Homo sapiens: one gene and its partners. The protein of the gene in region 1 purifies or fractionates together with the protein of each later gene. This does not show direct contact. Each region holds a gene or a part of one and is shown in the gene's direction. Other genes may lie near its edges.

Evidence for each region. Proteins that work in one complex are often made in the same cells at the same time.
Region 2: the proteins of SGK3 (region 1) and MRPL1 purify together in Homo sapiens (affinity purification with mass spectrometry, with the first as the bait; one large-scale study listed by BioGRID). This does not show direct contact.
Region 3: the proteins of SGK3 (region 1) and NISCH purify together in Homo sapiens (affinity purification with mass spectrometry, with the first as the bait; one large-scale study listed by BioGRID). This does not show direct contact.
Region 4: the proteins of SGK3 (region 1) and ERC1 purify together in Homo sapiens (affinity purification with mass spectrometry, with the first as the bait; one large-scale study listed by BioGRID). This does not show direct contact.

What each region holds. Positions count from the first base shown.
Region 1 is NC_000008.11:66,844,556-66,849,498, forward strand, and holds part of SGK3 (serine/threonine-protein kinase Sgk3), read left to right. Parts: intron 1-2,637; coding exon 2,638-2,793; intron 2,794-4,943. Other genes in the region: C8orf44-SGK3 (serine/threonine-protein kinase Sgk3), read left to right, coding at 2,638-2,793.
Region 2 is NC_000004.12:77,949,011-77,953,909, forward strand, and holds the end of MRPL1 (large ribosomal subunit protein uL1m precursor), read left to right. Parts: intron 1-786; coding exon 787-868; intron 869-3,413; exon of another isoform or gene 3,414-3,478; coding exon 3,479-3,597; 3' UTR 3,598-3,775; downstream 3,776-4,899.
Region 3 is NC_000003.12:52,478,785-52,483,727, forward strand, and holds part of NISCH (nischarin), read left to right. Parts: intron 1-964; coding exon 965-1,078; intron 1,079-1,399; coding exon 1,400-1,511; coding exon of another isoform or gene 1,512-1,735; exon of another isoform or gene 1,736-2,094; coding exon of another isoform or gene 2,095-2,114; exon of another isoform or gene 2,115-3,973; coding exon of another isoform or gene 3,974-3,983; intron 3,984-4,943. UniProt on the Homo sapiens protein: Acts either as the functional imidazoline-1 receptor (I1R) candidate or as a membrane-associated mediator of the I1R signaling.
Region 4 is NC_000012.12:1,024,904-1,029,846, forward strand, and holds part of ERC1 (ELKS/Rab6-interacting/CAST family member 1), read left to right. Parts: intron 1-2,844; 5' UTR 2,845-3,000; coding exon 3,001-3,669; intron 3,670-4,943. UniProt on the Homo sapiens protein: Regulatory subunit of the IKK complex. Probably recruits IkappaBalpha/NFKBIA to the complex. May be involved in the organization of the cytomatrix at the nerve terminals active zone (CAZ) which regulates neurotransmitter release.

The sequences.
Region 1 (4,943 bases):
TATGTTTTTCTGTAGGCTTTTTGACATGTTTAGAAATAGTTCCTAGACTCCCTTTGTGGTCCCCTAAGTGTCCAGCAGCCTCATGCTGGGAACCATGTGCGAATCCCTGAGGCTGCTGCTACCGCTGATGTTAAATGCCACTGTCAGCCAAGACCTGAGCTGAGTGTCTATTTGCTTTTTATTGAAAACTGTGGCGCTTACAGTGAAATTCAGCACATGAAGTACATTTCAGAGCGTTTGTTTTATCTTGCTAGTTTCGAATGATAGATTCCTGTGAAAGCCAACACCATCTCTTCTTTGCCCTTGACTGTGACCTGCATGTTAAAAGATCTAGTTTTCTGGTTATGCTACTGACTTAGAACATTGGAAAACCACTTTATACCTGATTTCCCTTTAAGCACTATTTATTTGCCATCTTGATATTTCAGAATCCTTCAAATTTATTTAGAGGACTTTGAAAATATATCATTGCACATAAAATGCAGTTGATTCAAAAGAGAACATTTAAAACATACATTTTATTAATCAAACTTTTATTGTTTTAAAATGAAGTTTTATTTTGGCCAGCCACAGTGGCTCACGCCTGTAATCCCAGCACTTTGGGAGGCCAAGGCAGGCAGATCACCTTAGGTCAGGAGTTCAAGACCAGCCTGTCCAACATGGCAAAACCTCGTCTCTACTAAAAATACAAAAACTAGCCTGGCACAGTGGCATGCCCCTGTAATCCCAGATACTTGGGAGGCTGAGTCAGGAGAATCACTTGAACCTGGGAGGCGGAGGTTACAGTGAGTGGAGATCATGCCACTGCACTCCAGCATAGGCAACAAAGCGAGACTCCGTCTCAAAAAAAAACAAAAAACAAAAAAAGTCATATTTTAAAAGATAAGCTTTTTCTTTCCTACACAAAGGAAAGGAAAAGTGGCAAGCCTATAAAACTCCCTTAACTTTAAAAATTATGTATACTTTAATTTTTATTTTTACTTTTTTTGAGACAGAGTCTCACTGTGTTGCTCAGGCTGGAGTGTAGTAGAATGATCACGACTCACTGCAACCTTGACTTCCCAGGCTCTGATGCTTCTCCCACCTCAGCCTGCTGAGTAGCTTGGACTACAGGCATGCACCACCCCACCTAGCTTGCTTATTTATTTATTTATTTATTTATTTATTTATTTATTTATTTATAGTAGAGACAGGGTGTCGCCATGTTGCCTAGGCTGGTCTCAAACTCCTGAGCTCTAGTGATCTGCCCACCTCAGCCTCCCGAAGTGCTGGGATTTCCAGTGTGAGCCACTGTGCCTGGCGTCACTTTTTATTTTGTAAACTTCTGTATTGTTTGGATTTGTTACAACAAGCATATATTACTTTTGTAATTTTCACAAAAAGAGACTGAAAAGAAAAAAATGTCATTTTAATGTTTTAAGTCAGATTCATCTTATTTTATAAAAATACTGGTAACTAATATTTAAAAGGTAAAAACAAACCCACAAGGGTAAAATATTAGAGACCAGTCCTCTGGTGAATAAATTGGGTTTTTTTTTGTTTTTGTTTTTGTTTTTTAAAAAAGAACAGTAACATTTTACATGGTAATTCCCTCTTTGGAAAAATGTTTCTGGTGCTCTGGACACATTAATTCAAAAGGAAGTAGTTTTGTAGGTTACATATTACAACCTTGCAGATAGAACCTGAGTAGCATGATAATCTTCTTTCCTCTTATTCCCAGAGTACAGAAACCTGTACAGCTCATTTTTTTTCTCAAAAGTTGTTACTTTATTTATTTGAGATGGGGTCTCACTCTGTTGCCCAGGCTGGAGTGCAGTGGCGCAATCTCAGCTCACTGCATCCTCCGCCTCCCAGGTTTAACCGATTCTCATGCCTCAGTCTCCTGAGTAGATGAGACTACTGGCGTACACCACCATGCCCAGCTGGTTTTTTATTTTTTCAGTAGAGACGGTTTCACCATGTTGCCCAGGCTGGTCTTGAACTCCTGGCCTCAAGCAATCTGCCCACCTCAGCCCCCCAAAGTGCTGGGATTACAGGCGTGAGCCACCACGCCTGGTCTTTATTTTTACTTTAAACCTTTATAATTAGATGATTAACTAGCTAATGCTTGTGTTGAAGCTATACCCCAAGTCTTTTGGCTGTTGCGGTGGCATTTTTAATTCTGCAAAGTACAGTCATAATATTATCTCTGTCATAAGTACCTAAGAAACATTATCTTCAGGCCTCCATCTCTACTAGAAATCCCTTTGTTTCAGTGAGTTTATTCCCAAGTCTGAAATTAATGTTTGATCTGTCTTGAACTTCTATTTCCAATGATTCTGTCATTATGCCTATGATAAGGTTGGTGGTTTTCTCTAAAACAGGTACTACTACAAGTTGTATATAATTTAACAGCTGTCTACAAGGTGCTATTGAACAAACTGGCCCTAATTCATTCAGTGAACACTTATTAAGCTCTGTGATGTGTTCGGTTTTAGAATCTCTTTGCTTCAGGAAGCCACACTGCAGGTGTCTACACGTCCCAAGAGGTCCATACATTTTTTCAACTGACTGCTCCCTCAAGATTAAAGCCATTTTAACCCCATTTGCGCATAATTTGTTTACCACTAAGTTTATTTTGCTTTTTTTTTTTTCCAGCCTCCTTTTTATTGCCGAGATGTTGCTGAAATGTATGACAATATCCTTCACAAACCCCTAAGTTTGAGGCCAGGAGTGAGTCTTACAGCCTGGTCCATTCTGGAAGAACTCCTAGAAAAAGACAGGCAAAATCGACTTGGTGCCAAGGAAGACTTTGTATGTAACAGCTTTTCTAGCTCCAGCTTTATTTAAGCTTATTTAAAATTTGGAAATAAAGCTTTATTTTATATGGTATTTAATGGAATGAATACAATATGCGGAGAATAGCAACATGGAAAAAAAGCATACTTGTCTCCACAGTTTTCACCTGTATTTATATAAAACTATGTAGTATTTAAAGCACTTTCTGTTGCATACACTTTTGCCCTATCCACCACATACACTTTCGCACCCTATTATTTACTTGATTTTCATTTATTACAAATTCCCCTCCCCTTCTTTTTAAAAAGTGTTGTGTGGCATATTTTCACTACCTAAACTTTCTTTTGCTGTTTTTATTGCTAAATAATACTAACATTTTCATGAACTAATAACACAGAGACTAACCAACTAGTAAGCTTTTTGTTGAGGGTTTGGGACTATCTAAAGTCTAAATCATTTCCTTTAGCAGGAATTTGTTAAGTGCCTCCTGTCTGCATGAGGTAATGTCTTTTGCCTTGAACACTAAGTCACTTTTTTTTTTTTTTTTTTTTTTAAGAATTTGGTGAGACCTCCTTGAGATAATTAGGGAATCTGCATGTTTGTTTCAAATAAGGGTAATTAAATTTGTAGTGTAGTTACCGGCATTATGTTAGTGTGTCAGTAAATGCACAAAAATATTGAGGAATATGAACTTTTGAACTGCTTTCTCAGATATTCTTGGAGGCTGCTTATCAATTTTGAACTTGAGCTGTGAATAAAAGACTTTGCTGCTACTGCTTTACCCCTGCTCCCCAGTTCAGCTGGTAGCTCTGCCAACAACTTCCTTTCCGTTGTTCCAGACAGTCTTGCTAATATTTCACACCTCCTTGTCCCTTGGTCCATTTATTGAATTCATTGACAGAGATTGCAGCTCTAGATGAATCCAACTATCATCTCATGGGCTGCTGAACAGTGCTAAAGAAGGTAACAAACTGGGCATATTGGAAGCACTGTGAACCTCGTCTGTGCTTCCCCACTGTCTGGTAATACTCTTTGTTTCTCTGTGTAGCTTACTCTCTTCCTCTCTGTATTAACTATTTCACACCTTCTCTCCAGACTTCCCAGATTCCTTTTCTTCTTCTTCACTTTTAACAGATGATCTTGCCTTCTATTTTGTAAGGAAAATAGAACCATTAGAGTGGAGCTAACTTAGCTTCCTGCTATCAAATCCACAGACCTATATACACTTGCAGGATCCTGTCATTTTCTTCTTCGTATTGTAGTGGAAAAGGTCTGTTTCCACCTGTGCACTGTATCCTGTCCATTTGTAAGGAACCCTGTCCATGTTTGTTTGTTTTGCACAAATAACTGCTCCCCTTTTTTTCTGGTTCCTTCCAGTCAGTAATTAAATGTTATCAAATCTGTTGCTTCTTAAGCCAAAAAAACCCTCAGTCTTACTCTCCTGAGAGGTACTACTCTATCTCCTTCCCTTCTTAGCCAAACTTGTTGGAAGTTTTCTTTGTTCAGTCTCCCTTTCCCAAGCTCTTTCATTTCTCAATCTACCACAAAATAGCCAGTAGAATTGCTGGATACTACTTTTCCTCAACTTATGCCGCCCTCAGCAGCATTTAAACTTGCAACACTCTCCTGTTCCCTAGCCTTCTGCAAGAGCACACGTGCGTCTCATCTCAGGCTTTTCTTTCTGTATTTCTGGACCGTTCTCCATTATTTCCTGTGTAAGCTCCTTTTCAAACTTCAAGTGTTGCAGTGCCCTGTCGTCCTAAACCCTCTTTTCTTCCGTGCTGTCTTCCTGGGCAATCTCAATTGGTCCCATGGCTTTAGTTATCTATATGTTTTCATCTCACACATTTATATCTTCTGTACTCTTCAGCCCTCTCTTCTAAACTCTAGACTTACATAGTATCTGCCTGCTCAACATCACCACTTGGAGTTCCTGAGAGTACCTCAGATGCCGCTATTGTCCCCCTGTGCTCCCTTTTGTATTAAAGGACATCACTGTCCATGTGGCTATTCTGGCCAGAAATCTGAGAGGCATTCTTGATTCTTCTCTCTTCCTTACTTCCATATTCAACAAACAGCCAGTTCCTTTTTGCTGCCTGAATCTTTCCCATATCCAGACATTTCTAGCCCCACTGCTACTACTCTTGTCCTACTCTTTGTCATCT
Region 2 (4,899 bases), on another chromosome or scaffold:
TTCGCCTGCCTTGGCCTCCCAAAGTGCTGGGATTACAGGCGTGAGCCACCGTGCCCAGCCGTGAACTTTTAAAAATTGATTTATTTGGCACAGTGCAAAATCCTGTAAACATTTGAATGTAATATAACGGATTTTAACTGGAATATTTAGGAAGAATAAGAGTAATTGAATTTGAATAATAAACAGAAAGACTTTTCAAGGGTGTAATTTGGGTTTAGGAGTTTTATGAATAGAACTCATTCACTGTATATTTACTTACTGCTAAATGACAAGATAATTGTTATTGCATAGTGTTTGAAAAATTAGAATGTTAGCACAACATCCTGAAATTGTCTCTGTGTGAGATATGTATTATCTGAATGCATGTAGCAAGCAGTTTTATTTTGGACTCAAGAAAACATTAATTTCTAGACATTTTCTTAGTTTCCTTTAAATCAACAAACTTCATGAGAAAATGTCACTGTTTTCTTGGGGGGTGCGTGTAGGGAATGATGTATTCTGCTCCAAGATATGCTTTAGGGAAATTACTTGGAAGTCAAGGATTCTCAAGTGGAAAAACTTCAACTTCAGTTTGCTATAATATGTTCTATAAATCTATTAAATCTTGACATGTGAAGACATGTAAATGTGGCATTCGAAACAAAGAGCTATAGAGGTTTTCCCCTTTCACAGTAGGGTCATTTACTAGATAATTTGCATTGGTTGACTATTTGAAAAATAGTCTAGAATAATTTATTATCTTCTTGCTTTCTCATCATTAATGTTATGTATATTATTTTCTTTCAGTTGGATATGTCAAGTGACCAGATAGCTGCCAATCTGCAAGCAGTTATTAATGAAGTTTGTAGGCACAGACCGCTGAATTTGGGTAAGTGGTTTGCTGAGGGTAGACTTCCCTATGACCCTGTGAAACTTTAAAATGTAAAATATGAAGAAAAAAGTCAAATTAACATGCAAGTATAATAGCAAAATGTAAAATATTAAATAAAAAATCAAGTTAACATGCAAGTTTTATATTTCCAGGGATTAAATAAATAAAATTTAATTCTCCAAAGGATTTCTCTAGCATTAATAAGGAATGCATCCTGAAACCTTTGTAGATTCCCACATTATTACTAATAATAGATGTAGCAAAGTTTGAAAGAAAACTGTAACTGATTGCTTTAAACTTACAATGATGTTAGGGACTAAAATTATTTCTAAAATGATATTTTGAAACCAGATCATTCACTTTGTCATTGGCACTAGCAATTAGTTTTCTTAATCTTATTTATTTATTACAGGACAGAAAGAAGATCATTTTATTATGTCATGAGAGTCATTTATAAATGAGGTGACTCATAGAGAATCACTCAACTCAATTGAGATGTGGAAGCTGTGTAGTAGGCTAGAACACAGGCATCCAGTTTCTTTATCATTGCGTTGTGTGCTGTTCAAATTCCTTCCTCAGACAAATTTCACTTGTGGCTGCTTGAAGCCAAGCAAGGGTCCATTATACTCAATTGACTACTCATTTGTAGGCTTACCATGATAAGAATTTGTCAGGTTTAGTTTTATAACCAAGTTTATAATTAAAACACAATCTTAAGCTATTTTTTACCTTCTTTGGGAGTTAACCATACTGGTGAATAAATACCACCCTTGTTAATTTTCTTGCCCTAAATATGGCCATACTACTAAGTAATTGGATGTGTATGGATTCTTAGAGTCCACAGATAACTTTGATTTCAGTACAGGATCCTCTTGAGACAATAGTAGGAGTAGATGATGGACAGTAAATCCTCAAAATGTTGTTATTCTCTTTTTGCTATTTCATATGAAGCCCCTTAGCATGTTTAAATGTTGTGATTCTCTTTTTGCCATTTTATTTTAGTTTTTGAGACGGAGTCTCACTCTGTCACCCAGGCTGGAGTGCAGTGGTTTGATGTCAGCTCACTGCAACCTCCGCCTCCCGGGTTCAAGCAATTCTTCTGCCTCAGCCTCCCAAGTAGCTGGGATTACAGGCACCTGCCACCATGCCAGCTAATTTTTGTATTTTTAGTAGCGGTGGGGTTTCACCATGTTGGCCAGGCTGGTCTCGAACTCCTGACCTCAGGTGATCCACCTACCTTGGCCTCCCAAAGTACTGGGATTACAGGTGTGAGCCACGGTGTCCGGCTGTCTTTTTGCTATTTTAAATGAAGCCACTTAACGTTGTTCTTATGAAAAGCATTTTAGTTTTTAGGGAATTTTACCAACTGTGTGGTAACACAAAGGTAGCATCTGTGCTGACTGTTTTAAATAAATATTTATAACATTTCCATCAAATGTAAATATCACCACCTGCTCCCTTCACTGTTGCCTTTGCAATAAAATAAATTCTAGGTGATCATCTTCTGGAAGAGAGAAATGAATTATTAGTGAGTGTGTGTAGTTTGAAGGATAAATCTCTAATATTCTAGAGTACAACTAGTTTGTCTTCTATTCTAGAAATGAAACTATCTTCCCCTTCTTATAATTCAAAATATTAGTTCAGTAATACAGTACTTTTCACTGAAAATATGACATGAGTTCTATAAGTTTTCCTGTTGTATATTTGTACAGCAGGTCCTTGAATAACATCCTTTTGTTCAATGTTATTTTATTATAACATTGATAAGAAAAAAATAGATTCCTGGCCAGAGCCACTGTCTGTGTGGAATTTGCATGTTCTCCTCATGTCTGCATGGATTCTCTGGGTACTTCGGTTTCCTCCCGCATCCCAAAGGTGGCATGTTAGGTTAATTGGTATGTCTGCATGATCCCGGTGTGAGTTAGTGTGTGGGTTGTGTACGTGTGCCCTGCAATGAGATGCTGCTTATCCGGAGATCATTCCCACCTATGCTCTGACCTGCCAGGATAGGCTTTGGCCTCCCACAACCCTGGACTGGAATAAGGGAGTTGGAAGATGAATTAATGAATACAAACTATTGTAAAATAAAAATGGGCAAAGTATATGATAATCATACAAATGCAGGACAATAAATGATGTGGTATGAAAGCACTCAGTGAGGCAACCATATTTGTTAGTTTGTTTTTGAACTGCACGGTGGCAGAAGGCGCTTCTTACAGTTTTCACTTTGCAAACACTTAGTCTTTGATTTAAGTCACCACCACTATGACTCCTGTCACTCTGATTCACCCACAGTTGGGTAAATAATTATTGCTTTTATTAATCTTAAATGTATTTATAGTTCAAATTTATTTCAATGGTTAATATTAGAAGTGTTTGAGCTCTTTATTTAGAAGCTTGGTGATATTTTTGTGACTAGAAATATGCCTGAGAAACTTAACTCTTATTAATTAGCCTACGGTACAATTGGTTTCTTTATAAGTTGTTTTGCTTAAAGTTGCAGTTTCCAAGAACCTAGTGACAATATTAAGTGAGGACCTACTTTATTTGCTCATGAGGTGGTATTGCGATATAAAAATCAAAGTTGATTCTCGTTTTTGTTTCCAGGTCCCTTTGTGGTACGTGCTTTCCTTCGTAGTTCAACAAGTGAAGGTTTATTACTGAAGATTGATCCATTGTTGCCTAAAGAAGTAAAAAATGAAGAAAGTGAAAAAGAAGATGCCTAAATGTGGTGAATTGTGAAATTACTTTCAGTGGTTTAAGAAGCAATGGAGAAAATGATAATACAGCATAATTTTTACATTTGATGTCTTGTTATTGATCATACTTGAAAGTGAACTTTAACATTGAAAAATCGTACAGTCATTTCAAGAATAAGAAAATAAAATTTTCTCTTTGTCTGAACCTGCCTTTTAGACCCTGTGACATTTTCTTTTTTAGAATCCAGAGTCTACGTACTGGTAATTATAGCAGCAGTTTCTGGCTTAATAACTTTCCCTTGGGAGTCATAACCATCTGAGGGAATAGTAACATCCTCAGTTCCCATAAAGCAGAAAATGGCAGAATCATGAGCTACATCACAAATATAGCTATTTTCTTTTAAAAAAAAAAAGAAAATAAGCATTCTAAAGTATTCTGAATACTATTTGTGATAGCATGAATATAGAAAATTACTAAGTCACTAAACCGTATGTTGGGTAATCTCTTTTTAGGAATCAGTTTGTAATTATATATATAATATGTATATGTAATATATATTATTATATAATTATATATGTAATATATACATTTGTAATAATACCACATATTTTTATGATGCTTTGTAGTCTACAAGGCACTGTATGCAGTGTTTTCATATACGTGACCTCATTTGCTCCTGAATTTCTCTGCTTAATAGTATAACAAGTGTTTGGTTAGTGTTTATCGAATGAACATTCCCATGAAGTAGCTAGAACAACTTCATTCATGGATTAAAAATCAGGCCAAGAAGTAAAGCACCTTGCATCAAGTACCAGTTTGCAGACCGATGTTAATCCTTAAGTGCTTACTGATATATGACAAAGTGAAAAAAATAAGGATAATTTTTGGCATGCAGTTGCCAGCTGTCCTTTCTTGGGAATGATTACTTGAAGTATCTTCCACTTTTTTAGGGATTATTCGAATGAGTTTTCTTTTATGAAATAATAGTGATGGTGACTTTGTTGGTGGGGTTTAAATACCTACTTTGTTTTTTGTTTTGTTTCATTAATGCACCTCATTTTATTTTAGTTTTGGTGTTGACTTGCCAGCTCTAGCTTTTCAAGGTAAAATCTTTTTTGAAGAAGAGCTGGGTAACACAATTCTCACAATCCAAAATGTATGATTTTAAAACAATTGGATTTCTAATAACACGAATTATTTTGATTCATTTTGCATTGATCTATTTGGGAACCATAAATCTGCCTAGAGCACACAGAATCTGCACACTCAACTTGGCCAAGGAATAGACATGTTTCAAGATGAAGTTCATCACTACCAATGAAGTATTT
Region 3 (4,943 bases), on another chromosome or scaffold:
AACATTGTTTATTCTAGGAAAGGGTCAGAAATAAGATCCTTAAAATATTCATATCTCCTGGACAACCTGTGGCCATAGTGCCTGACTGTAAACCCAAAGGGTTTGCCTTTGCCAGTGTAGCCCAGCCTGGTGTCTGCTGCCCCTCGCGGTGTCTGTGCACCTGCCACGATGCTGACCAGACACCCTTAACCAGGTTCACCCATCGCCTGGGCCTGGAGCAGTCCCCGTGATGCTCTGATTGGTCCTTGGACCTTCTGTTCTCCCAAAATCCCAGGTCAGAAAATACCTGGAAGTCTATTTGTGTCCCACCTCCCTCTTTGTGGCCGCAAGTGCCCCTTCCTCCACACAGTCACAAGACCATGAGATGCCATCTCCTCCCCTCCTGGGCTGCAGACTTTGGGAAGCTCCCAGGCCACAGAGTGTCAGCTCCTGTCCAGGCCCTTGGGACCTTCCCTCATTCAACCACCCTACCCAACCCCCCACTGCCTGCCAGCCACCACTCCCTCCCACATTTGCAGGCGGGGGCCCTGCCCTCTCCTGCCGCTGGTTCCCCTACCCAGGAGGCTCTCCCATCGCTCTTTTGAGAGTCTGCCTCCCACCTCTAACTGGGGGCTTAGTTCAAGTTGCCCCCTTACCCTAGTCCCAGCTGCCCAAGAGCTTGCTGCCTCCTGTTCTTGGTGAGGGACTCCAGAGACAGATGTGAGACCTCCCTGGACCCCTCCAAGGCATTCCCAGGTCACTTCCATGAGTAGTGAAGAGCCGCCTCTGAGCAGGCTGAGCCTCCCTCAGCCTATGGTGTCCTCACGTGGCCTGGCCCACAGCAGGTGCTCACGCCTCCTCCTCAGCAGAGCCCTACCATCCTCCTGCCATGCTCACCAGTCCCCATGCTGATAGCCATCACCAGTCCCCATGCTGATAGCCATCACCAGTCCCCATGCTGATAGCCACTTTCTGGATGCTCTAGGTCTGTCTGGATGACACAGTGACCACAGAGAAGGAGCTGGACACTGTGGAAGTGCTGAAAGCAATTCAGAAAGCCAAGGAGGTCAAGTCCAAACTGAGCAACCCAGAGAAGAAGGTGGGTTTGTGTGGCAGGTGGGAGGGCAGTGGTGCAGAGCCAGCCGGGATAGGAGCCAGTTTGGGGGGCTTGGGCCATGGGACTGCTCAGGGCTGCCGAGTCCCAGCTGCGCCCCTCCCTGGCTGCATGACCTCGGGCAAGTCGCGGCCTCTCTGTTCTCTGTGGGGTGGGGACAGTGGTAGTTCCTGCTCTAAGGATATGATGAGACCATCTTTACCACCCAGTTGGTGGGAACCGTTGCGCTCCCTCCTCACACCCCTGGCCTTGGGGAGCTCTGTGCTTCCTCTTCTCTCCCGGGCTGACTCAAGCACTCGTCCTCAGGGTGGTGAAGACTCCCGGCTCTCAGCTGCCCCCTGCATCAGACCCAGCAGCTCCCCTCCCACTGTGGCTCCCGCATCTGCCTCCCTGCCCCAGCCCATCCTCTCTAACCAAGGTAATCGTGTATGTATCTTGCTTCTAGTGGAGCCACACAGCCCTGCCTGGGCCCCCTGGCTGGGCTGGGGTTGGGGGAGAGGTGCCAGCACCTGCTTCCAACAGGGTCAGACACAGGGAGGGCAGTGCCTTCTGCAGGCTGGTCCTCGCGGGGGGACACATGGCAGGGGTGCCTGGCCTGATGCCAGCTGTTGCTTGCTTGGTGAGGACTCCCAATTGCTCTGATGCCCACATCCAGCTCCTCTAGGAGACCGCAGGGTGTCTGACAGGCCCTGAGGCTGCCCTCTGAACAGGCTCGGGGCTGTTGGCTCATGGGACCCATTCCCTCACCGGCAGCACAAGCAGGTTGGCTCCTGGTTACAGGAAGCCGGGCTTGTGACTTTACTGTCTGGAGCCCGAATCCCTGTGCAGGGAAAAGCTTGCTTTTATCACTGCCTCATCTCTGTGGGGTGACCCAGCCCCAGAACACCATGTTTGTGGGGCCAAGATGGGCCATCTCTGTCCCTGTGGACCCATGGAAGACCAGGCCCATTCGTCTGCCCACTATCTTAGCGTTTTCAAAGGGCTTTCACCTCTGAACCCAGGCATCCTCGGAGATGAGTGAGTGAAGCAGGTCTCATGAGCGTGTCTGCTGGCCCGGCCCCCACGGAAGAGGGGAGGGTGTGCCGTCCCGAGTGGAGCCGAGGCTCGGGACACGCAGGAAAGGACGCCGCCTGCCCGGGCTCCTGGAGACGCAGAACTTGGTGTGAGGTCTTGGGAAAACAGTTCAACCCGATGTTTTAAGAGCCAGAAAAACATTCCCACCCCTTGACCTGGTAACCCCACTGGTGGGGATTTTCTCTTAGAGGGATAAGATACCGGGAAGGGGAGGTGAAATGCTCACCACTGCCAAAACACGGGCTGCAACTGCAACATCGGAGGATGAGAGGGAGAGTCGGCTGTGGTGCAGAATGCTCAGCAGCCCTCCCAGCAGGGACAGGAAGACTGGGCAGGAAGAGGGGAGAAGCATTCAAGTTAAGGCAAAAGGCCCAACGCAGAGCAGCACACTGAGGTCACACCTGTGAGATGTGGAAGAGAATTCCTGAGCGTGGAGCGATGGGGTTAGGTGCCAGGATGATTGCCCATTTTGCTTCTGTCAGACTCTTGACTAAGGATTTCTGGTTGCATTTTATTACATAAAAGCCAGGGAGGTTATATCACGGTGAGAAAGCTTCCCTGACGCTGCCTCCTGTAGCGCAGCCAAGCGAGCCTGTGGAGGTACCATATGACTGTAGGCCTCTGGGGACAGGGAGCTGCATCTGCTTCTCAAGGCCAGGGACACAGCCATTTCTGCCAGCATCTGTTGATCAGTGAGTGAGTGAGTGGGCAGGTAGAGCAGGAGCCAGTGAAGAGCAGGCCCTGGATGGGTGGGGATGCACCATGTCCCCAGGCTGCAGCTGCAGGCAGCCCCCCACATTGTCGGAGAAGCCTCTGCACCAGCTCAGCCCCCTCCTCACTCCCCTTGTGCCCTGGGGACACTCTGCAGAGGGGCACTCTGCAGTCTGTCCCCGCCATCGCTGGACTTCTGGACATGGCCTCCAGATTTGCACCTCTTAAATAAAACTGCAGTGGATGTCTTTGTGTGCACCTCTCTTTCCTTTTGGTGAGAAACAGCAAAGATCGGACCCCTAAGGACTCTCCTGATGTCTCCGCTCTATCCGCTGAGTGCCCTTTCTGACCACTTGTTTGTACAGGCCACGGTCCAGGACGGGAGCAGATAGACTGTCCCTGTCCCTGTCCACATTTCCTTGGTCCAAACAGGGCTTGTGGGAGGTAGTGGCAAAAGGTGTTGGTCTTTTTCTCACTGATTTGGAGGCCTCCCCGTGTGTTTTTTCAGCCGCGTGTTCCTGGGTCTTGCCTGGATGGACAGGGTTTTTTAGCGCGTGGGAGCAGCTTTGCTGACCCATGCCTGTTGCTTCCAGCCTGATTCCCGAGAAGGGAGCCTGCTTGCGAAGGAACTGGCACTCGGGCCTGCCTGAAGGGGGCGCTGTCCAGACAACACCCAGCCTCCCGTCGTGGCAGGCGCTGTCGGAGCCATGGATGATTGTGACCAATAGGGGTGGTCGCCAGAGTTGATTGTCCAGCCAGGCCCAGGGGCTGAGAGGAGGCTGTGTGGAGAGGTGGTTAGGAGCCAGGGCTCGGTCAGCTGAGTTCGCATGCCAGCTTCCTAGCTGTGGGACCTCAAGCAACTTGTAGCCCCTCTGAAGCTGTTTTCTCAACTGTGAAGTGGACGCACCCTACTTCATTGATTCTAAGAGGCACGCATTTCCACCTTGTGACTTCTCTGAAACTGAGGTGCGTCTTTCAGTCAGTGGCGTCTCATAGTCGCTGTCAGCCAGCTGGTATTCGAGATGGAGTCGTGGAAAACCCGTGGACACCTTCCGCTAGGACCAAGATGGCGCCACCTGCCGCATCTTAGATTTGATGAAATGTGGTAAATAACGAGAGGCATGCATGAGCGAATGCTGGGGAGGCGCTTGGCACTACCCAGAGCTCCACAGAGGTGGTCGATGAGGGCTGCCCTTTCCCACATCCTTAGTAGGGGGTTCAAGATGACCCAGACTGTGCCCCTGGGGAGCTTGGAGCCATGCGGGAGGATGAGCCATGTGCTGGAGGAGAACAGGGTAGGATGGTGTGGGGCTTTTGTAGACTGTCTAGAGCAGAGAAGGTCTGCAGTGGAGGTGGTGTCTGAGGTGAATCTCGAAGGTGAATAGGAGTTGAACGTTAGCAGGCAGAGGGTGGATTGCAGGAGAGCAGCGGCCTGGGCAGGTGCCCAGCGTGGCCCATCAGGGTGCTTCATGCATGGCTGTGTGCTTGCCATCCTTCCTGCCTGCCTACCCCCTGCTGCTTCGCTTCGTGGGGGCGTTTGAGCTTGGGCCCACCTGCCTGCCTCGCTTGTGGGCAGAGGACCCAGGCTGTGTGAGTTGTCCTGTCCCGGGGAGCAGCTGAGCTGGTCGGGGGTCTCGACCTGTGGGGCTCAGAGGACTCGGGGTCATTTCACTGGGCTGTGGCGATGCTGGGCTGTGGAGGTAGGCCTAGGGCTCCTGTAGGCCTCAGTGAGACTGGCGGCCGATGCCCAGTGTTCACCCTGCTGGCGGCAGTCAGGAACATGTTCACAAAGGCTTTACCTTCAAGTGGTCTAGAGGTGATCTGAGGTGGAGTAACAGGTCCAGATAGGCTACGTTCATAAAACAGCTTCAGCGGGGTTTAGGAACACTGTGCATTTACGGGACGCAGTGGGTCAGAGTGCTGCTGTCCGTGGGAGGTGGCCCCAGGGCAGGTCAGTGGGCACGTCCTGTGGTAAGTGGGACTGTGGATGTGGGCTCAGGCTGGACTCAGCAGCCCTGCTGGATACCAAGGCCTGCAAGGGCTGGCCCCCTGGTGAATTGTCCCG
Region 4 (4,943 bases), on another chromosome or scaffold:
TAAAAAACACAATAAGTATAACAACGATTTACATAGCATCTACATTTTATTAAGTATTATAAGTAATTTAGAGATGATTTAAAGTATGCTGGAGGATATCCATAGGTTTTATGCAATTACTGTGTCATTTTGAATCAGGGACTTGAGCATCCTGGGATTTTTGTTGTCTGGGGCAGTCTTGGATATCTGGATACGTTCTACTGGAGCCAGTCCCCAGCAGATACCAAGGGACAACTGCCTGTGGTTTTAAAATTTGTTTTAGTTATACTTGTAGAGTATGAACATGTTTTCTTTTTTGAAAAAAAAATTCAGGTGCTTTATGGTAGTTTGAGTGTAAAGCTTTCTAAGTTGAGCTAAAGCCTCCACAAACATTTTTCCCCTTTATAACACAAGTTTCCTTCCCTCTAATTATCGCTGTTTCAAAATTGGCATTTCCCGTGTAGGAATTCTTTACATACTCTGTTTACAGATCATTATACTTATGTTCACTGTATTTTTCACCTAGCTTTTGGTTTATCTTTTAATTTTATTTACAGCATTTTTTGGTATAATACTTTGTCATTTTGACATAATTAAGTGTGTTGGTTGTTTTTCTTTATGGTTTTTGCTTCTGGTTTTTTATTTAAGAAGCCTTTTCCTAACTCAAGTTCACAAGGATATTCTTCAAAATTTTCTTCTAGTACTTTTAATGGCTTAAAAAATTTATATCTTTAATGTATATGGAATTTATTTTGGTGTACTATGTGAAGACGAGTATACGTTATGTTTCTCAAAGAGCAACAAGTATTTAAACTTCATTTATTGAGTGATTTTTCATTTCCTCACTGTATTAGTCTGTTCTCATGTTGCTAATACAGACATACCCGAGACTAGGTAATTTAAAAAGGAAAGTTTTTTTTTTTTTTTTTTTTTGAGACGGAGTCTCGCTCTTGTCACCCAGGCTGGAGTGCAGTGGCGCGATCTCGGCTCACTGCAATGTCTGCCGCCTGGGTTCAAGCTTCTTATGCCTCAGCCTCCTGAGTGGCTGGGATTACAGGCACCTGCCACCATGCTTGGTTAATTTTTGTACTTTTAGTGAGATTGGGTTTTGCCGTGTTGGTCAGGCTGGTCTCGAACTCTTGATGTCAGGTGATCCACCCGCCTTGGTCTCCCAAATTGCTGGAATTACAGATGTAAGCCACTGCACCCTGCCAGGAAAGAGGTTTAATGGACTCTCAGTTCCACATGGCTGGGGAGACCTCACAATCATGGCAGAAGGCGAATGAGGAGCAAAATTATGTCTTACATGGCGACAGGCAAGAGAACTTGTGCAGGGGAACTCCAATTTATAAAACTATCAGATCCCATGAGACGCACTCACTACCACCAGAACAGTAGAGGGGAAACTGCGCCCATGATTCAGTTAAGTACACCTGGCCCCACCCTTGATACATGAAGATGATTGCAATTCAAGGTGAGATTTGAGTGGGGACACAGCCAAACCATATCACTCACTGTTTGGAAACGTTACTTTTAACATATATTAAATTCCCATATATAATTTAGACCCTGTTCTTGGGCTAGTACTATACAGTTTTCGTTATTATAGTTTTACAAGGCTACAATACTTTGTAAGAAACCTTGCAGGTCAGATGTGGTTTTGTTGTCAGGAATTTTTTCCAGTAATACTTAGTGGACATTATGTAGTATCCAGTAATCACACACATTGTTTTCTTAATGAAATATATGAAGTCACACTATGTGGGATACATATAAACAGTAAGTAAGCTCAGATCAGGTCAAGGTTTGCTGCTAGATGAGTTAAAAGGAAAATCTTATTTTCAGAGGTTTTTGGATTTTTGCAGTACAAATGAAGAATTATGGATTTGTAATTTATGTTGCTGTTGAGGGCTGTCTTCCTTCCTTGTTCATCTATTTTAAATTGTTTGGTTACTCTTGTATCTTTACTCTCCATTTGAATTTTAGAGTCAGCTTGTTGAGTTACTTGAAAAATCCTTCAACACCTGTGAAAGGAAGGGATCTATAGCTGGTTAGCAAAATCCTGTAGAGATTTTTCACTGGGATTGTGCTAAGTAGTTGGGGAAGAACTAAATCTTAGCAGTGTTTGTCTTCTCATCCATGAACACAGATAACTTTGTTTAGGTGTTCTTTCATGTCTTTCAGTAAAATGTTATAGTTTTTTTCCCCCAAAATTCTTGCACATTTCTGTTGATTTACATCAAAGTACTTTTATGGTTTTGTTGCTGTTGTGAATGGGATTTAAAATTTCCTTTAAATTAAAAACTGCATTTTCTAGTTGTTACTACTGATGTATACATTGATACTTATATATTGATATTGAGTTTGACCAGTTTGTTGAGTTCTGTTATTCTAATAACTTGTCAGTTGATTATCTTGGGTTTTCAGTTAGCAAGTCAGATATTCAGACATTGAGTTTAATCTTTTCCTTGTCAATCTTTATACTTCTTGTTTTTTTTTCTTTTTCTTTTTTGTAGACAGGGTCTTGCTATGTATCCCAGGTTGGTCTTGAACTCCTGGCCTCAAGCGATCTTCCTACCTTGGCCTCCCAGAGCGCTGGGATTATAGGCATGAGCCATTGCACTTGGCACTTTTTTTGTTTGTTTTCCAGTTGCATGGTATGTTTTCAGCGTTCAGTTTTGAGACATCTAAAATATCTCTAAAATATTGTTTACTATGAGTACATTATGCTGTAATCACATTCTGAATGCGTGAGTACATACATGGTAGAAGGGCTAGATCTTCTTTAAGTGGGGGTAATGGAAAGTCTCTGAGAAGGGAAATATTTATTATTGGAGGATTTAATGTGTGATCTTTTCATTACAGATATGGTGTAAGATACTTCTTCAAGATTGGACAGCTGGGGACCTTCTTCTGATTAACCTTAAACCAACTTGTAGCCATAGAGACACCTCACAAGGTTCCCATTTTTGTTGTTGTTGTTGTTGATTTTCTGCTCACACCTTTCCTGACCTTGCAACCATGTATGGAAGTGCCCGCTCTGTTGGGAAGGTGGAGCCGAGCAGCCAGAGCCCTGGGCGTTCACCCAGGCTTCCACGTTCCCCTCGCTTGGGTCACCGTCGAACCAACAGTACGGGAGGGAGTTCGGGAAGCAGTGTTGGAGGTGGCAGTGGGAAAACCCTTTCAATGGAAAATATACAATCTTTAAATGCTGCCTATGCCACCTCTGGCCCTATGTATCTAAGTGACCATGAAAATGTGGGTTCAGAAACACCTAAAAGCACCATGACACTTGGCCGTTCTGGGGGACGTCTGCCTTACGGTGTTCGGATGACTGCTATGGGTAGTAGCCCCAATATAGCTAGCAGTGGGGTTGCTAGTGACACCATAGCATTTGGAGAGCATCACCTCCCTCCTGTGAGTATGGCATCCACTGTACCTCACTCCCTTCGTCAGGCGAGAGATAACACAATCATGGATCTGCAGACACAGCTGAAGGAAGTATTAAGAGAAAATGATCTCTTGCGGAAGGATGTGGAAGTAAAGGAGAGCAAATTGAGTTCTTCAATGAATAGCATCAAGACCTTCTGGAGCCCAGAGCTGAAGAAGGAACGAGCCCTGAGAAAAGATGAAGCTTCCAAAATCACCATTTGGAAGGAACAGTACAGAGTTGTACAGGAGGAAAACCAGGTAAGTTCTACGTGTGTTTACCTTTATTGGCTGAATTCATGTATATAAATGAAATAGCCTTTTTTTCCCCTTTCCTAGATTTTTCCCTTCGTAGTATATGTATCTTCCTTTTTCCTATTGATTTTACTGTTTTGTGTCCTCCATTTCTCAGCCCTTTCCAAATTTGGTCCTGTACCCTGTTTTCTTCTAGCTGCCCATGTCTCCTTGCTCCCATTCTTGCTTGGTTCTTTTCTCTGGTTTCTCTTTCTCTTCGTGTCTTTCCTTTCAGCATATGTTATCTTTTTTTTTTTTTTCCAATTCTTCTGAGAGTATAATTTTGCCACACTCTCTAATATCTATTACCAAATGTATTTTAGAGTAGGTAACTTAAATGTAAGGTATACCATTAAGATTTGTCATAATGTCAAAAAGTCATTCTTAAAAACAAAACAAAATGACTATCACAGGATAAGTCAGTGTTGTCAGCTGAGAACAGAAATTACTTTTAAAAAGTTAATGTTGGCCGGGTGCAATGGCTCACACCTGTAATCCCAGCACTTGGGAGGCCGAGGTGGGCGGATCATTGAGGTCAGGAGTTCGAGACCAGCCTGGCGACGTGGTGAAACCCTGACTCTACTAAAAATACAAAAATTAGCCAGGTGTGATGGCGTGTGCCTGTAATCCCAGCTTCTAAGGAGGCTGAGGCAGGAGAATCACGTAAACCTGGGAGGCGGAGGTTGCAGTGAGCTGAGATCCCGCCACTGCACTCCAGTCTGGAGTGAGACTCTGTCTCAAAAAAGAAAAAAAAGTTAATGTTGATGATGTATTTATTAAGTACAAACAATAAGTACCTGTTCTTTTTGTTGCCATTCATGGAAGTTTAACTTCAGGATGCTTTTGTAGCTTTTCGTTCTGTAATTCTTTACATTTAAGGTGGAGGAAAGGCAACTTGGTGTGATTGTTTACTTGTAGAAAATAAATGAGATGACTGGGCATTATAATTATGGGCTTTGCAATTTGAGAGCTAAGTGCTGTCACATTAGCTACAGGAAATATTCACTTATTTTTCTGTGCTCCTCCAGGTTATAGTTGATGTTTGATGATAGCCATGCCACATTCAGTGAGGAAGCTGATGACTCCAAAGATGTGAACAAATCATATTCAGGCTCTACTAGTTAAAATGTTAAACATACTTTTTTTTTTTTTTTTTTTTTGAGACGGAGTCTTGCTCTGTCTCCCAGGCTGAAGTACAGTGACGCAATCTCAGTTCGCTGCAACCTCCACCTCCCAGGTTC